2 separate regions of the Homo sapiens genome follow, and region 1 is linked to region 2. Evidence: fine-mapped expression QTL. A gene starts in region 2. The other region holds a variant in brackets. All regions are shown on one strand. Distances are between the middles of the regions.

The links. PIP is the estimated chance that this variant, and not a neighbour inherited with it, causes the effect.
Region 1: its variant is fine-mapped to the expression of ZNF251 in whole blood (INTERVAL, PIP 0.91).

What each region holds. Positions count from the first base shown.
Region 1 is chr8:144,861,654-144,869,983 of GRCh38, reverse strand. No RefSeq gene overlaps it. Among named protein-coding and RNA genes, the nearest start is that of COMMD5, 13 kb to the right of the region's middle. The variant A/T (reference allele first, on the strand shown) is at 3,634.
Region 2 is chr8:144,751,724-144,760,053 of GRCh38, reverse strand. It overlaps ZNF251 (zinc finger protein 251), which reads left to right and starts at 4,523. Exons shown (of 5, transcript NM_138367.2): 1 at 4,523-4,649; 2 at 5,251-5,358; 3 at 5,733-5,862; 4 at 6,258-6,371. The coding sequence starts at 5,326. It overlaps LOC107986986 (a long non-coding RNA gene), which reads right to left. Exons shown (of 3, transcript XR_001746149.3): 3 at 1-2,748.

The sequences.
Region 1 (8,330 bases), 110 kb before region 2:
GGACACTCCCTTTCCCGGTCTGCTAAGTAGCAGGTATTTTTCCTTGGCACTGACGCTACTGCTAGACCACGGTCTACTTGGCAACAGGCGTTTTCCCAGATGCTGGCGTTACCACTAGACCAAGGAGCCCTCTGGTGGCCCTGTCTGGGCATAACAGAAGGCTCACACTCATGTCTTCTGGTCACTTCTCACTATGTCCCCTCAGCTCCTATATCTGTATGGCCTGGTTTTTCCTAGGTTATGATTATAGAGTGAGGATTATTATAATATTGGAATAAAGAGTAATTGCTACAAACTAATGATTAATGATATTCATATATAATCATGTCTGTGATCTGATCTAGTATAACTTGTTGTTTTATATATTTTATTATACTGGAACAGCTCGTGCCCTCGGTCTCTTGCCTCAGCACCTGGGTGGCTTGCCGCCCACACTACCAAAGTGCTGGAATTACAGGCATGAGCCATCATGCCCAGCCATCGTTTTCTTTCTTTTTTTTTTTGTTTTTTTTTTTTTTTGAGGCGGAGTCTCGCTCTGTCACCCAGGCTGGAGTGCAGTGGTGCGAACTCAGCTCACTGCAAGCTCCACCTCCTGGGTTCATGCCATTCTCCTGCCTCAGCCTTCCGAGTAGCTGGGACTACAGGCGCCTGCCACCACGCCTGGCTAATTTTTTGTATTTTTAGTAGAGATGGGGTTTCACTGTGTTAGCCAGGATGGTCTTGATCTCCTGACCTCATGATCCTCCCACCTCAGCCTCCCAAAGTGCTGGGATTACAGACGTGAGCCACTGTGCCCAGCCCAGCCATCATTTTCTTTCATCACTTTGTCCACTGAACTTAGGAGCAACCAACCAGCTTCATCATGTTCCTTGGTTCTCCACATATAGTCAAAGATATTATGTATAGGGTCACTAAACTCCTTGCCTCTCATGAATGGTGAATCAGGAGTGTCAAATGCATTTATTTTGCATAACTCTCTAAACAGTTTATGCCAAGGACTATCAGTGTTCTCCATACTATTAGAAGTAGAGTCCTTAACATTTTGGGGTCTAATCATATTAACCAGCCAAATCCAGAAACCCCAAAACCAATGACAGAACTCCATCCTTAATATCCTCTTCCTCCAGAACCACTCCTGGTACAAAAATCTGTATTAGTCAGAGTTCTCTAGAGGGATAGAACTAATGGAATATATATAAAAAGGGAAGTATTAAATTACACAATCACGAGGTCCCACTATAGGCTGTCTGCAAGCTTCAGGAGCAAGGAGAGCCAGTCCAAGTCTCAAAACTGAAGAACTTGGAGTCAGATGTTGGAGGGCAGGAAGCATCCGGCATGGGAGAAAGATGTAGGCTGGGAGGGTAGGCCAGTCTGGCCTTTTCACATTTCTCCAGTATTAACCATCACACCTATAAATTTCCCCAGCCTATAAGCAGCTATGGGCTCTGGAGTTAAGCTCGTCCCCCATCTCCACAGGTTTTTGCAATATACCTGTGTTGTTGCTGTTGAGCAACAATCTCTCTCTCTCTCTCTGTCTGTCTCCCCCCTCTCTCTCCTCTCTCTCTCTCTGTGTGTGTGTGTGTGTGTGTGTGTGTTTCTTTAGCCCTTGCCCTCCCTTCAAAACCTAACATTTTAGTGCCAAAACCCAGGATAGGAATTGGGTTCTAAATGGGTAAATGTTTTCTAGCAACCTGGAAAGCAGCAAGCAGCAAAAACCAGACCCAGGCCTGCTTCCAGATCCTGAATGGACTCCCTATTCCCAGCTCCGTTCCTTTATTCTCTCTTCTTCTCTGGTCCTGGGCTGACTTCCAGATCCTGATCAAACTCTCCATCCTCTTTTTCCTTCCTTCCCCTTTCCAGGCAGCTCCAGCAAGTATCAATCCCATTGCTGGACATCACATCCAACACCCGTCTCCAATTAGTGGGTGAGTCTCTCTTTTTTTCCTCTCCAGATTCCTCTCATATTTCTGGGGGTTCACCAGAAAATTCCAGTACCAGGTGAGAGGTCTCCCTGGTCACCAGGTGACCGTGGCCTACCCTCTCAGGGGACGCCGTCAGAATGCTCACCACTTTGGCCACTGCAGCCTCTGGGGGTCTGCAAAGAGCTGTAGGGACGCCCTGGCTCTCCTAGGTCCCTTCTCCCAGGAGGAATCGGGGTACTCACTCCCCTCCGGGGTATTCACTTCCCTCTGGGGTACTTCCATCCTCTAAATTTCTCACCCTCTGGCCAGCAGTATGGGGCAACACTCCTCAAAACCTCAAGACACCACTCTTGGATGTTTCCATCCAGAACCTCCAAGCCCAGGGCTTGGCAGACTCCATTAAAACTGAACGCCTTGCTGGCCAAGTGTGATAGTTCATGCCTGTAATCTCAGCACTTTGGGAGGCCAAGGTGGGCAGATCACAAGATCAGGAGTTCGAGACCAGCCTGGCCAATATGGTGAAACCCTGTCTCTACTAAAAATACAAAAATTAGCCGGGTGTGGTGGCAGGTGCCTGTAATCCCAGCTACCCAGGAGGCTGAGGCAGGAGAATTGCTTGAACCGGGGAGGCAGAGGTTGCAGTGAGCCAAGATCGTTCCACTGCATTCCAGTCTGGGTGACAGAGTGAGACTCTGTCTCAAACAAAAACAAAAACAAAAACAAAAAACTGAACACCTTACTTTCCTCTGTAATGTTGCCCAGCCCCAATGTAAACTAGACAATAATAGTCAATAGCCAAAAACCAAAACATTCAATTTCCACATCTGACATAATCTAAAAGACTTCCTCCAGTGCAATCGTAAATGATCTGAGGTGCTTTGCTTATCTGTGCTCCTGGCTCACTCTCTCTCTGCCAATCCCGTTCACCTTTTCAAATCTTCCTCCTCAACAAAAAACCCACAAAAACGCCTCCTCCTCCAGACAAACCTTTCTCCTCTAATTTCAACCTAGCCAACAAACTAGGCACGTGCCCAGCCCCCTTCCACCAAAAACCAGGCACACAGCCAAAGGTCCTCCTAAGTTCTCCCTTTCCAGGAGGTCACAGGGACTAAAGGCATAATCTGAGTTCATGTTCCCTTTTCCCTAGTCGACCTCTCTCAGCTTAAAAAGAGACTCAGCGGCCGGGCGTGGTGGCTCACACCTGTAATCCCAGCAATTTGGGAGGCTGAGGCAGGCTGATAACGAGGTCATGATATTGAGACCATCCTGGCTAACATAGTGAAACCCTGTCTCTACTAAAAATACAAAAAATTAGCTGGGCGTGGTGGCAGACGCCTGTAGTCCCAGCTACTTGGGAGGCTGAGGCAGGAGAATGGTGTGAACCCAGGAGGTGGAGCTTGCAGTGAGCCAAGATCACGCCACTGTACTCCAGCCTGGGCGACAGAGCGAGACTCTGTCTCAAAAAAAAAAAGAGATTCAGCTCGTTTTGCACAGATCCCACCTCCTTCCTCAAGGAATTTCTGTATGTCACTCAATTTTATGACCTTACCTGGCATGTCATATATGTCATCCTCTCCTGCACCCTCACCCCTGAGGACAGGGAATGCATCTGGATAGCTGCCCAGGCCCATGTAGACACCCTCCCATAGACAAGATGCTGCCCATAACCCAATATGGACCCTAACTGTCCCCAGAACTGACCCCAGTTGGG[A/T]TTATCAGGCAACTTCTGCAGACAGATAGAAATAAGGCCATATGATATGCCTCCTAGCTGGCATAAATAAAGCCATTCCTGGCCAGGCATGGTGGCTCACATCTGTAATCCCAGCACTTCGGGAGGCCAAGGCAGGCAGATCACCTGAGGTCAGGAGTTCGAGACCAGCCTGACCAACATGGAGAAACTCCGTCTGTACTAAAAAAAAAAAAAAAAAAAAAATTAGGCGTGGTGGTGCATGCCTGTATAAAGGGGAATAAGTATTAACTTACACAATCATAAGGTCCCACAATAGGCTGTCTGCAAGCTTGTGGAGCAAGGAGAGCCAGTCCGAGTCTCAGCTACCCGGGAGGCTAAGGCAGGAGAATCACTTGAACTCAGGAGGCAGAGGTTGTGGTGAGTCGAGATCACGCCATTGCACTCCAGCCTGGGCAACAAGAGTGAAACTCCATCTCAAAAATAAATAAATAAAGCTGTTCCTGCTCTTTTCTTCTCCTGCCTTTCAAAGGCCATAACTAAATATGCCACGTTGAACCCTAATGCCAATAAGGGAAGAATCTACCTCCATTTACACTTCATTTTCCAGTCAGCCCCAGACATTCTAATGAAACTTAAAAAACTGGAGAATAGCCCTCAAACCTCCCAAAAAGACTTAATCAAAGTGGCCTTTAAGGTCTTTAACAATAGAGAGGAAAAACTAAAAGTCCAAAAGCTAAAAAGAGACCAGGCTAAATGCCAGATGCTGGCAGCTGCCATTCAACAGGGTTCCCAACATGTACAGAAATCCTCAACCTTGCAGCAAACTCTACCAGAAGCCTGTTTTAAGTGCAGCCAACAGAGTCACTGGGCAAAGGCCTACTCTCAAAACTTTGCCCCATCTGTGGCATCAAGGAACATTGGAAGTGGGACTGTGCTCAGCAAAACTCTTCATCCCGCTTCACCACCTCTAACTGAAGACTGATGGGGCCAGGGGCCTACCACCCCAACTGCCATCACCACCTCGGAACCCAGGGTCAGTCTCTGGTAAGCCCATGTCTTTCCTATTGGATACAGGGACTAGTTACTCAGTTTTATTAGAATATTCTGGACCCCTCCTCAGTTCTTCTATCTGTATTGTGGGAGTTGATGGAATCCCCTCTAGGCACAAACAGACTGGTCCTCTATTATGCAACCTATTCAACACCCCATTCACCCACTCCTTCCTGGTTATCCCTCGGTGCCCTGCCCCTATCTTGGGGCAGGACATACTAAGTAAATCCCAGGCCTCCATACAATCTGCCTCCTGCAATTCCGCTCCTTTTATTTTATTCTGCCACCAGATGCTTCCCTCTCCCCCTCATCCTCGTTATCCACCCTGTTACCTTCTGTTAATTCTGAAATTTGGAACATTTTTAAACCCACAATAGCCACACATCACATCCCAGTTAAAATAACCCTCCAAAACCACTCCATTTTCCATCATCAGTCTCAATATCCCCTAACCCAGGCAGCCTCAGGGGCCTCAAACCTATTATCTGTAAACTTTTACAAGCTAATATTCTCAAGATCCTACCACTTGGTCCAGGATCTCTGAGTTGTTAACCAGGTGGTAATACCAATTCATCCAACACTCCACTCTCATCCCACATACTCCACTCTCCCATAGTCCCTCTTCTACCACACACTTCCCTGTACTGGATTTAAAGGACACCTTTTTCACTATTTCCTTAAATTCGGCTTCCCAAAGTATTTTTGCTTTCTCTTGGTCAGATCCTAATACCCACATGTCCACCCAACTAACATGGACCATACTCCCACAGGGGTTCTGGGACAGCCCCCACCTATTCGGACAGGCCGTCACCAAGGACCTAGCTGAACTTCCCATTGCTCCTAGCACCCTCCCTCAATAAGTCAATGACCTACTTTTCTGTAGCCCCTCCCTTAACCTGTCCATCCAACGCACCACTCAGCTTTTAAACTTCCTCCATAGGTAAAGATATTGGGTCTCACCAACAAAGACTCATGTAGCCCAAACCCAGGTCACTCACCTGAGTTCTAACCCCTAATTCTCAGGCCATCCTAACCCAACAAAAGGAGCTAATTCAAGACATTGCCCCTTCCCCACACAAAGAAGGACCTCCTGTCCTTCTTGGGCCTCATGGGATACTTCCGGCTGTGGATTCCCAACTTCTGTTTGCTGGCCAAGCTGCTCTACATGTCCTCACTTGGGCCCAGCCTAGAGCCTCTGAACCCGGCTCGTCCCATCAATTCACACTTTAAAAAAAACTAAAAAATACCCTTTTAATGGCCCCAGAACTGGGACTGCCCAACCCCACCAAGCCCTTTACTCTGCATGTACATTCTGACAAGGCCTTGCTCTTGAACTGCTCTGCCAAACACAAGCCATTGCATACCCCTCAAAACAACCAGACTGTCGTCCAAGGCTGGCCACCCTGCCTAAAAATCTTGGGTGCGGCCACATTGCTGGCCTCGGAGGCACAGAAACTCACTCTCTACCAACACATTACTATTTCATCTTCCCATAACCTACAGGACCTCATGAGCCATCAATCTCTTCTATCCCTCCCATCATCCTGCTTACACCAGGTACACACCTTATTCATAGGAAACCTTCTAATCACCTTCCAGAAAGGTAAAGCTCTCAACCCTCCCACTCTCCTCCCTGTAAACACCTCTGACTCTGAGCTGTCTCACTCCTGCCTGGACCTCTTAGACTCCCTTTCCTCCCCCTTCCAACACATTTCAGAAGCCCCTTTGCAGGGAACAACTACATGGTTCATTAACGGAAGCTCTTTAAAGGAGCCATGTCCACCATGTGGTTACAACATCATTGCCAAAATAAACTCTCAGAATCTAATGCTCTCCCACCCCATACTACCTCGCAACAGGCAGAACTACCTCTCAACAGATAGAGTTGGTTGCCCTAACCAGGGCCCTCACCCTAACAAAGGGAAAGAGGGTTAACTTTTACACTGATTCCTGGCCCGGCGTGGTGGCTCACGCCTGTAATCCCAGCACTTTGGGAGGCCGAGGCGGGCGGATCACGAGGTCGGGAGATCGAGACCATCCTGGCCAACACGGTGAAACCCCATCTCTACTAAAAATACAAAAATTAGCTGGGCATGGTGGCGGGCACCTGTAGTCACAGCTACTCTGGAGGCTGAGGCAGGAGAATTGCTTGAACCCAGGAGGCGGGGGTTGCAGTGAGCCAAGATTGTGCCACTTACTCCAGCCTGGGTGACAGAGTGAGACTCCATTACAGGAAAAAAAAACATTTACACCAATACCAAATATGCATACCACATCCTACATTCTCACACCTTAATCTGGCAGGAAAGGGGATTTCTAGCTAAAAAGAACCCCCATAGTAAATGGCAAACTCATACACAAGCTGGTGGAGGCAGCTAAACTACCACTACAGGCCACCATTATCCATTGTAAGGGACACCAAAAGGCTACAAATGCCATAACCAAGGGAAATCTTTTAGCAAATTAGGCAGCCCGGCAGGCAGCCCTTAAACCCCATCATTATTGCCCAGTTTTCCCAGCATATACCCTGTATGTACCCAGGAGGAACAAACCTCACTTGCCCTGGCTGGTGCCATTCAGGAAAAAATGGTTCTACCTCAGTGCTAAAATTGTCTTGGCCAAATTTTAAAAACCTTCTGGGCCGGGCATGGTGGCTCACGCCTGTAATCCCAGCATTTTGGGAGGCTGAGGCGGGAGGATCACCTGAGGTCAGGAGTTCAAAACCAGCCTGGCCAACATGGTGAAACCCCATGTCTACTAAAAATACAAAAATTAGCCGGACATGGTGGCAGGCGCCTGTAATCCCAGCTACTCAGGAGGCTGAGGCAGAGAACTGCTTGAACCCAGGATGGAGAGGATGCATTGAGCCGAGATCGTGCCACTGCACTCCAGCCTGGGTGACAGAGCAAGACTCTGTCTCAAAAAAAAAAACCTTCTGTACTTTTATATGTGCACAACCATTTCCATGCTGGTTGCCTCCCCCTACTTCAGCTCTTAAAAACATATACATTCTCCCACCATGGCTGCCAATCTCAAAGATATTACTAAGGCATGTTCCCTTTGCACTCAGACTTCCCCTCAGAAAGCTATCAAATCACCCCCTTTCCCCACACACCAGGCCTGAGGACACCTGCCAGGGCAGGACTGGGAAATCGCCTTCACCTGCATGCCCCCTGTAAAATGAGTCCAGAACCTTCTGACAATAGTAGATACACTGGATGGATAGAGGGGTTTCCTACCACCACTACTACTACTACTGAAAAGCCACACTGTTGCTTCTATTCTCCTCACACATATTATCCCCCGGTTTGGACTCCCCTCTTTCATCCAGTCAGACAACGGGCCAACATATGTTTCACAGGTTAGCCAACAGCTGGCAAAGGCTCTAAACATTAAATGGGCCTTCCATATTCCTTATTGACCCTCATCTTCAGGTAAGATTGAATGGTCCAATGCCCTTCTAAAACAACAATTATCCAAACTCTCCCTAGAGGTTAAAATGGCCTAAACTTTACTACTCCCCATGGCCCTCATGCATTTATAAGCCATTCCTCACAAGCCCCTCAGCATAAGCCCATTTGAACATATGTATGGATGCCCCTTTATCCTCCAAAATCTCCCTGTATCTCCCCGCCCTTCTGCATGGGGTACTTGGCCAGCATTACACC
Region 2 (8,330 bases):
ATGCAATTATTACAGGGTCCTGAGGCGACATACATCTTCCTCAGCTGACAGGATTAAGAGATTAAAGTAAAGACAGGCATAGGAAATCGCAAGGGTACTGATTGGGGAAGTGATAAGTGTCCATGAAATGTTTACAATTTATGTTTAGAGATTGCAGTAAAGACAGGCATAAGAAATTATAAAAGTATTAATTTGGGGAACTAATAAATGTCCATAAAATCTTCACAATCCACGTTCTTCTGCCATGGCTTCCGCCGGTCCCTCCGTTTGGGGTCCCTGACTTCCCGCAACAAGGTAGCTCCCGCCCCTCCAGCTTCTTTGTCCTTCCAATCTTCCTGGGATCAGACGGAATGCACTGGGGTCTGCTCTTTGCCATGGCAGAGGCCTCTACATATGACTGGGAGGGTCAGTTTCTCATGACAGTTAGCAGGCGCTTGTGGCTGCAGATGCAAAATCATGGTCCCTAATCGGCTTTATTATTATTTTATTTATTTTATTTTTAGAAATGGGTTCTCACTATGTTGGCCAGGCTGCCTGAATTCTGGTGTTTTTGTACGTGGAAACTGGTGATGCAAGTACTGAATGTACCTCAGGCAGCTGGAGGAAGATACAGACGGATTGCCATCCGTCCCCCAGGTTAAGGATTCCCAATGAAGTCACTCTCTTCCCACCACTCCTCCTGAGAGGGTACGGTGGAAGGAAGGGTCTGAATTTTCCTCCCCAGAATTTCCCAAGACACAGGTATATTTGTCATGAATGTGAGGAGTGAGAACAAGGGCCTGCCCCGGCCCCCAGTCTGATTGCCCTCTCCGGCACTGCTTGCCGTGGGTGTTAGGCCCGCTTAAATTTTTGTTGTTGTTGTTGTGGTTGTTCTTCATGGAGTCTCGCTCTGTCGCCCAGGCTGGAGTGCAATGGTATGATCTCGGCTCACTGCAACCTCCACCTCCCAGGTTCAAGCGATTCTCCTGCCTCAGCCTCCCGAGTAGCTGGGATTACAAGCGTGCACCACCACACCCGGCTAATTTTTTGTAGTTTTAGTAGAGATGGAGTTTCACCACGTTGGCCAGGCTAGTCTCAAACTCCTGACCTCAGTTGATCCGCTCACCTCGGCCTCCCAAAGTGCTGGGATTATAGGCGCGAGCCACCGTGCCCAGCCAATGGGTAAATATGCTGAGTATGTATTTCTAAAGGTTTGAACACAGAAGAAAGGTCTGAGATGGAATTTTTTTAAGTGGGGTAATTTACATGTAAGTAGCAGTTGAAGAAATGAGACAAGGTAAGCTCTCTTAGAGGAAAATGTAGAATAAAGTAAGGAGAATGCGCAGGGCAGACACTGAGTAGAGGAGAAAGTAGCAAAGGAGATTGAGAGTGGTTGGCAGAAAATGAAGGAAGGGTGGTATTATTGATGATAAGGAAATCAAGTGTTCCAAGAAGGACAGACAGTTCATGGTGTCAAATATTGCTGAGAGGTCAAGTAAAGGAAAACTAAAAAATGCCCACTGGTGGCCAGGCACTATGGCTCACACCTGTAATCCCAGCACTTTGGGAGGCCAAAGCAGGTGGATTACTTGAGGTCAGGAGTTTGAGACCAGCCTGGGCAACAGAGCAAGACCCTGTCTCTACCAAAAAAATACAAAAAATTAGCCCGATGTGGTGGCACGCATCTGTGATCCCAACTACTCATAAGGCTGAGGTGGGAGGATTGCTTGAGCCCGGGGAGGTGAAGGTTGCAGTGAGCTGAGATTGTGCTACTGCACTCCAGCCTGGGTAACAGAGAGAGACCTTGTCTCAAAGGAAAAAAAAAGCCCACTGGTTTTAGAAACAGGGAGGTCAGTGGAGTAGGGAACAGCTCTGTTCTGGGCCCTGAGGACCTTGGACATCTTCACATAGCTGTGTGGCAAGGTCCATCACCGTGTGAACTGAGTTTGGCAGAATGCTTGGAGGTTCCTCCTGAAACTAAGGGAGACAAGCAACCTTGTAAGAAACGACAGTGACAGCAGCGCCCCTGGGCCCCTGGTTGGCTGCGTCTGGGATGCTCCCTTTGCCCCTCCTTGGGGTACAGCTGCGGACACACCACTGCCTGGCTGCAGTGTGGAGCTGGCGCCTCAGCAGCACCGTGGCCACCATCTGTGCTTTCTGTCATCTGGCCCCTATGGTTTGCTGTCATCTTGTGTGTCTAGGGACACAGGCTGCTGATCATGCTGTAGCTGTTTGAGTAAGAAATAAACAATCTAGGCTGGGCACAGTGGCACACACCTGTAATCCTAGCACTTTGGGAGGCCGACGCAGGTGGATCACTTGAGGTCAGGAGTTTGCCACCAGCCTGACTAATATGGTGAAACCCCGTCTCTACGAAATACAAAAAAATTAGCTGGACATGGTCCTGCATGCCTGTAATCCGAGCTACTTGTGAAGCTGAGACAGGAGAATCACTTGTACCTGGGAGGTGGAGGTTGCAGTGAGCCAAGATCTCACCATTGCGCTCCAGCGTGGGCAACAAGAGTAAAACTCCACCTCAAAAAAAAGAAAGAAAGAAACAATCTCTATCTTTTGTGCTCATTGCTGATCAAATCCATGTAAATATGGCAAACCAGCCTAGCATCTGTGGCAGTTGACGCCGGTAACCCTGTCAGCTGCTGGATTGCTGCCTAGGGACTGCTTGGATGCTTGGCAGTTGGTAGCCCTGTAAATAGGAAATATCCATTAGGAGAGCCTGCAGCCACCAGTCACAGAGTGATTACACGCCCCCTGTAGGAGATGTGAAAAAGAAAAAGAGGAAATCAAATATTCTGCAATCTTACAACTAGTAATGATGTATTTATTTTCAGCTTTTTATATACGTTTTTCAAGCACTTCCCAAGTATTTATAGAGTACTTACTATGTTCCAGGCTGGTGGCTGAGCAGTGAACAAACCAACCTAGGTCCTTATATCTGGAAACCTTAAGTTTGTGAACTTAAACACCCATATATACAATTGAGATCATATCATAAATATAATTTTGTATTCTATTTTTCACATTCTATTTCATAAGCATTACCCTCTGCCAATACTTTTTTTTCAAATACCACACATAATGGCTGCATAATGTTCAACTGAGTGTACAGAAGACAATAGATTTATCTATTTCTGTGCTGCAAAAAGCATAATTATCTTCCATTTCCCCTTCTATGAATAACTAGCTATTTTCCAAATTCTCCCCATTATTTAAAAAAAACCACACACACAACAAACTCTGGAATGGGCACCCTTCTCTTTGTCATTTTTGTTATTTCCATAGGATAGATTCCTAGATTAATTGAAGTGTTTAAGGCTCTTTATGTACAGCTTAATTCATTTTCAACATTGTACTAAACACGCTTCCTCAAGCATAGCAGTGCGTAATTCTCCACAATCTCCCCAGCACTGATATTAATAATGTAAGGCATCTTCTTAATCATGTGTGACTTTGCATGGTGCTTTAGACTTCTAGACATTCTCCATCCTCGTTGATCGTCTCAAGTTCAGATATAAAATTTCTGCCTTGATTCTAACACAGTGTACAGGGCCTACACTATATTCTGGGTGACAAGATGGCTTGGCTTTCCTTTCCTTCTCCCCCTGCTCCTAAGCTGGTCTCCTCACCTTTATCAAGTGCTATTTTTTCAACCATGCTTTATTGTGTAGGGGCCAAAGGGAAAGTTCCTCTTTGCCCTCTGAAGGTTCACTGAAAGCCAACTCATAAAAGGCAGATTTTTGGAGAAAAGGCAAATAAATGGATTATTTATTTATTTATTATTTATTTTTGAGATGGAGTCTCGCTCTGTCACCCAGGCTGGAGTGCAGTGGCGCGATCTCGGCTCACTGCAACCTCCGCCTCCCGGGTTCAAGCGATTCTCCCGCCTCAGCCTCCGGAGTAGCTGGGACTACAGACGCCCGCCACCACGCCCGGCCTTTACCGCCAGTTTTCACACAGAAAAGCGGGGGGAACATCAGAGTCGTGTTTTTAGGTTTTGTGGCTGGCTTTGGGGGTCTGGCCTCTGGGACTCGCCTTGGGTAAAAGGGATTCACTCTGTGAGGAGCCTCGCGGGAGAAAAGAACTGAGACTGGAGGCCTGGGAAGGTCAGAGGGAAACTGCCTCCCAGGCCTTCATTTTGGGGCGTTGTGTTCTGAGCCCCGATAATTGTAACATCTTCATAAGCGACTTTCTGGTGGTTATGGTGAATCGGGACACACGATGTATGGTGACCGACGGGGGAGCCGGGAGCCCAGCGGGGTTAGGGTTCAGGTGAGGGTTTAGGGTCGGGGCGAGCGCGGCGCGGCCCGGATGCGCAGCGTCACCGCGCCAGACCCTCCGCTCAGCTGCCGTGGGCTCTCCCCCTCCCCGACCATAGACGGCGCAGGCCTCCAGTCATCCCAGAGCGGCCCCGGAAGAATCCGGGCGGAACCGCGGCTGGCTTCCGGTTCCCGGCGTTCTCGGAGGCGTACTGAGGCCCCGCAGGGGGCGGGGAAGCCTGCGTGTGCGCAGCTCGGCCCGGCCCGCCCTCTTCATCCTAGCCCGCCCCCTCCCCGGCTCTGGACCCGGTTCTGTGGGAGGGTCCGTTCCGGGCTCGGTGCGACTGCGCAGCTCCTCGGCGCTTCCTCGGTGGCTTCCCCGGGTCGAGCAAACAGGTGGGGCAGTGTCGGACCAGGAAGGAGCGCCAAGCGGGCAGGCAGGCGGGGAGGGCGCGGGGAGGGCGCGGGGAGGCGGCGGCCAGTCCAGGAGGAGCCTGTTCTGGGTGCCGCGGGAGCCACCGACGGGCTGCAGAGGCCGGGAGGAGGCGACCGCGGCGCGGCCCTAGAAGGCTGGACTGAGGACCACAGCTGGCTTCCGGCCTCTCCCCGGAGCCTGGGGCCTTCGGCAGCATCCCCGCGGCCTCCTTCTCACGTCCTCAGCCTTGGTGAGGCTGCACCCTCACGTGGCTCTTTGCCCCAGGTTGGCCAGGCAGGTAGAACGGCCCTGCACCCCATTTCCAGGGCCTTCAGCAGGTCTGGACCACGGGAACTGCCAGCTTTCACCCCTTAGCCGGGCGTCCCTGGATCCCCCCGGGCTCTGGCTCTGGCCGTTCTGGGATTTCAGGAGTCACTGAGCAGTAGGGCACGTCGGCCCGTGCTGCATAGTGACCTGCCTCCCGCGACCCAGGAGGCCACAGCAGCAATCAGCTTCTGCCTCCTGGCCATCCTTCCACACCCCTGGTTGAATGGGGCTGAGCCTGAGTTCTCCCCACTGAAGGTAAGTTCGGGGAGACTTCAGGCCAGGGCAGTCTCCTGTCTTCTCTTGGAAACCACAGCAGCCCATGCACACAGAATGGCAGCCACATTCCAGCTTCCAGGGCACCAGGTGAGTTAACCCTCCTTCCTGCCCACCTCTTCATCTTCATCCCCATCCCAGTCAGAAGCTACTCTCCTCTGGAGCCGTGAGCCCGGCAACTGGTAAGGCCAGCCAGGGGCTCATAGCAACCGTGAGGAAAGGGTTCTGAGAGGTAGACTCGCCCTCCTGCAGGGAGAGGGGCTCTGAGCTCAGCTGGGTCCCCGTGTAGCTGAAGTTGGCTGGTCCTCAGCGCTCTCAGCTGCCCCATCAGGGACCTGCTGATACACAGTTCATACTGACCACAGCAGGGCCCTGGGTAGTGGGGCCCCACCAGGTCAGGGCCCTTTTAGTGCAGGCTGCTGCCCCGTGGGCATGGCCTGGGCAGCGGCGATGTTTTGTTGCAGGAGATGCCGCTGACCTTCCAGGATGTGGCCGTGTACTTCTCTCAGGCGGAGGGGCGGCAGCTGGGCCCCCAGCAGCGGGCGCTCTACCGGGATGTGATGCTGGAGAACTATGGGAACGTGGCCTCTCTGGGTGAGGCTCTCTGCACTTGGCCTGGTTCGCAGTGGGGGCCTCTGAGGAGCTTGGGAGGCTGCTTTGGCTCTTTGGATCCCAAAGAAGAGGGTCCTGCCCCTTGTCCCCGGGTATCAGTCTGATCTCTACAGAAGGAACATTTCCCATGGGAAAAGCCTGCCTTGCTCCCCAGTTCTAGGGACTTCACTCCCTGTTGCCAGTGGCCCCACTGGTGTCCCTCCAGTGGCAGGAGAGCTGATGAGTGGATTCTCCTTCAGTACTTAGTCTCAGCCCACGGGCCCCCTGACCAACACACGTGCAGGCGTACACACGTGCACACAGGGCCCATCTCTCCACACCTGGCCTGGAAGGCCCAGTGGGCCATGCCAGCTCACCAGTGTCCTCATCCTCAACAGGATTCCCTGTCCCTAAGCCGGAGTTGATCTCCCAGCTGGAGCAGGGGAAGGAACTTTGGGTCCTGAATCTTCTGGGAGCTGAGGAACCAGATATCTTGAAAAGCTGCCAGAAAGGTGAGAATGGATGGGATGCTAATCCTGGGAGCAGCCTCCCAATCCTGCCTTAAGAGGCTCCAAGCGAGGGACAGCTGGGGCATGGCGTTCATATTAATGGCCTCCCCCAGGGGCAGTCTCACAGATACAGCCCCTCTACAAATGTGAGCATGTGCACATGCTTTAGAAGTTTTATCTTGCTGGTCTGTTTCTTTGCTTTAAAAATATATATATACTACTTCTGATCATATTTTTGTTTTGGTGATTTACCTTGATAACAACTTCATTCCCTTCTTTATAATACACTTATTTCCTTTTGACAATAGATATCGGTACCCTACCATGTCCTTTTTATTCTTCACTCCATTCTCTCCTTCATTTGCCAAGTTTAGTCAGTAGTAGTCTTTTTTTTTTTTTTTTTTTTTTTTTCGAGACAGAATCTCACTCTGTCACCAGGCTGGAGTGCAGTGGCACGATCTCGGCTCACTGCAACCTCCACGTACCAGGCTCAGGCAATCCTCCCACCTCAGCTTTCCAAGTAGCTAGGACTACAGGCACATGTCACCATACCTGGCTAGTTTTTTTTTTATTTTTGTTGAGACAAGGTTTCACCACGTTGCCCAAACTGGTCTTAAATTCTTGAGATCAAGTGATCCATGTCGACCTCCCAAAGTGCTGAGATTACAAGCATGAGCCACTGCACCTGACCAGTGGCTTTTTTTAATGTTTACCTTTGTTCTATTGAATATACATCTACTACTTGATATGTCAGCTGTAAGTATTATCTTTGACTGCCAGCTACTGAGACAGTCAACAAGCTTGTTCTACTTTTCTCCCTTTTCCTCCTCATTCCTTTCCCAGTTTTTGTTGGTTATATTGTTTCTACACTGTCAGAACATATAACACTTTACAACTCATATCCGCAGCTTTGTTACTGGCTTATATCTCCAGTTAAGTATGTTATTAATAATTGTTTATCTCTGGTCCTTTTACCAAAAATTTCCCCATCTCTTGGTTGGCTGGAGCTTGTCTTCTAGTTTATTCAGAAAGGCTCGTGAAAAATATACCCCATATTTGTGCACATTCAAAATTGGTTGAATAAAGCATTTGGTTTCTACATGTAAGAGCTAAGATTGTAAAATTATATCGTTTTCTCAAAGTGCAGCTTAAGTTGCATCTCACAAAATTTTAATATGTTGTATTTTCATTAACATTTAGTTCAAAATGTTATCTAGTTTTTCTTGTGACTTCTTCTTTGACCCAATGATTATTTGGACATGCATTAATTTCCAGATAGTTGGTGTTTTCCTAGTTATCTTATTGTTATTGTCATTTAATTCCACTGTGGTCAGAGAACATACTCTGTATTATTTCATTCCTTTCATATTTGTTGCTTCTTGTTTTATGACCCCAAATGTGGTCTCTCCCAGTACAAATACCACGTGCACTGAAAAAGAATGTGTATTCTGCCATTTGGGGGTTAGATAAATATCAGTTAAGTCAAGGTGGTTGATGGTATTGTTCAGGTCTTCTGTATCCTTGCTGATTTTTTTTTTTTTTTTTTTTTTGGTCTAGTTATTCTTTCAGTTGCTGAGAGAGGGGTGTTAAAATACAGAAGTATGATTGTGGAATTGTCTTTTCTTCACTTTAATTTTTGTAGTGTTGGCTTCATGTATCTTGAAGCTGTATTATAAGACTTACTTCACTTATGACTATCATTATGAGAGATAAGAGAATTCCTGTTTGTCTCTGGTAATACATTTTGTTTTGAAATATATTTTATCTAATATTAATGTAGCAATTCCATCCTTCTTATACTTACTGTTAGCATAGTATATCTTCTTTCATCCATTTAATTTCAACCTGTCTTTACACTTAAAGTGAATCTCTTGCAGATATCATACAATTGGGTCTTGTTTCTTCATCCTAACAATCTTTGTCTTTTAATTGTAGTGTTTAGTCTGTTAATGTTTAATGTAA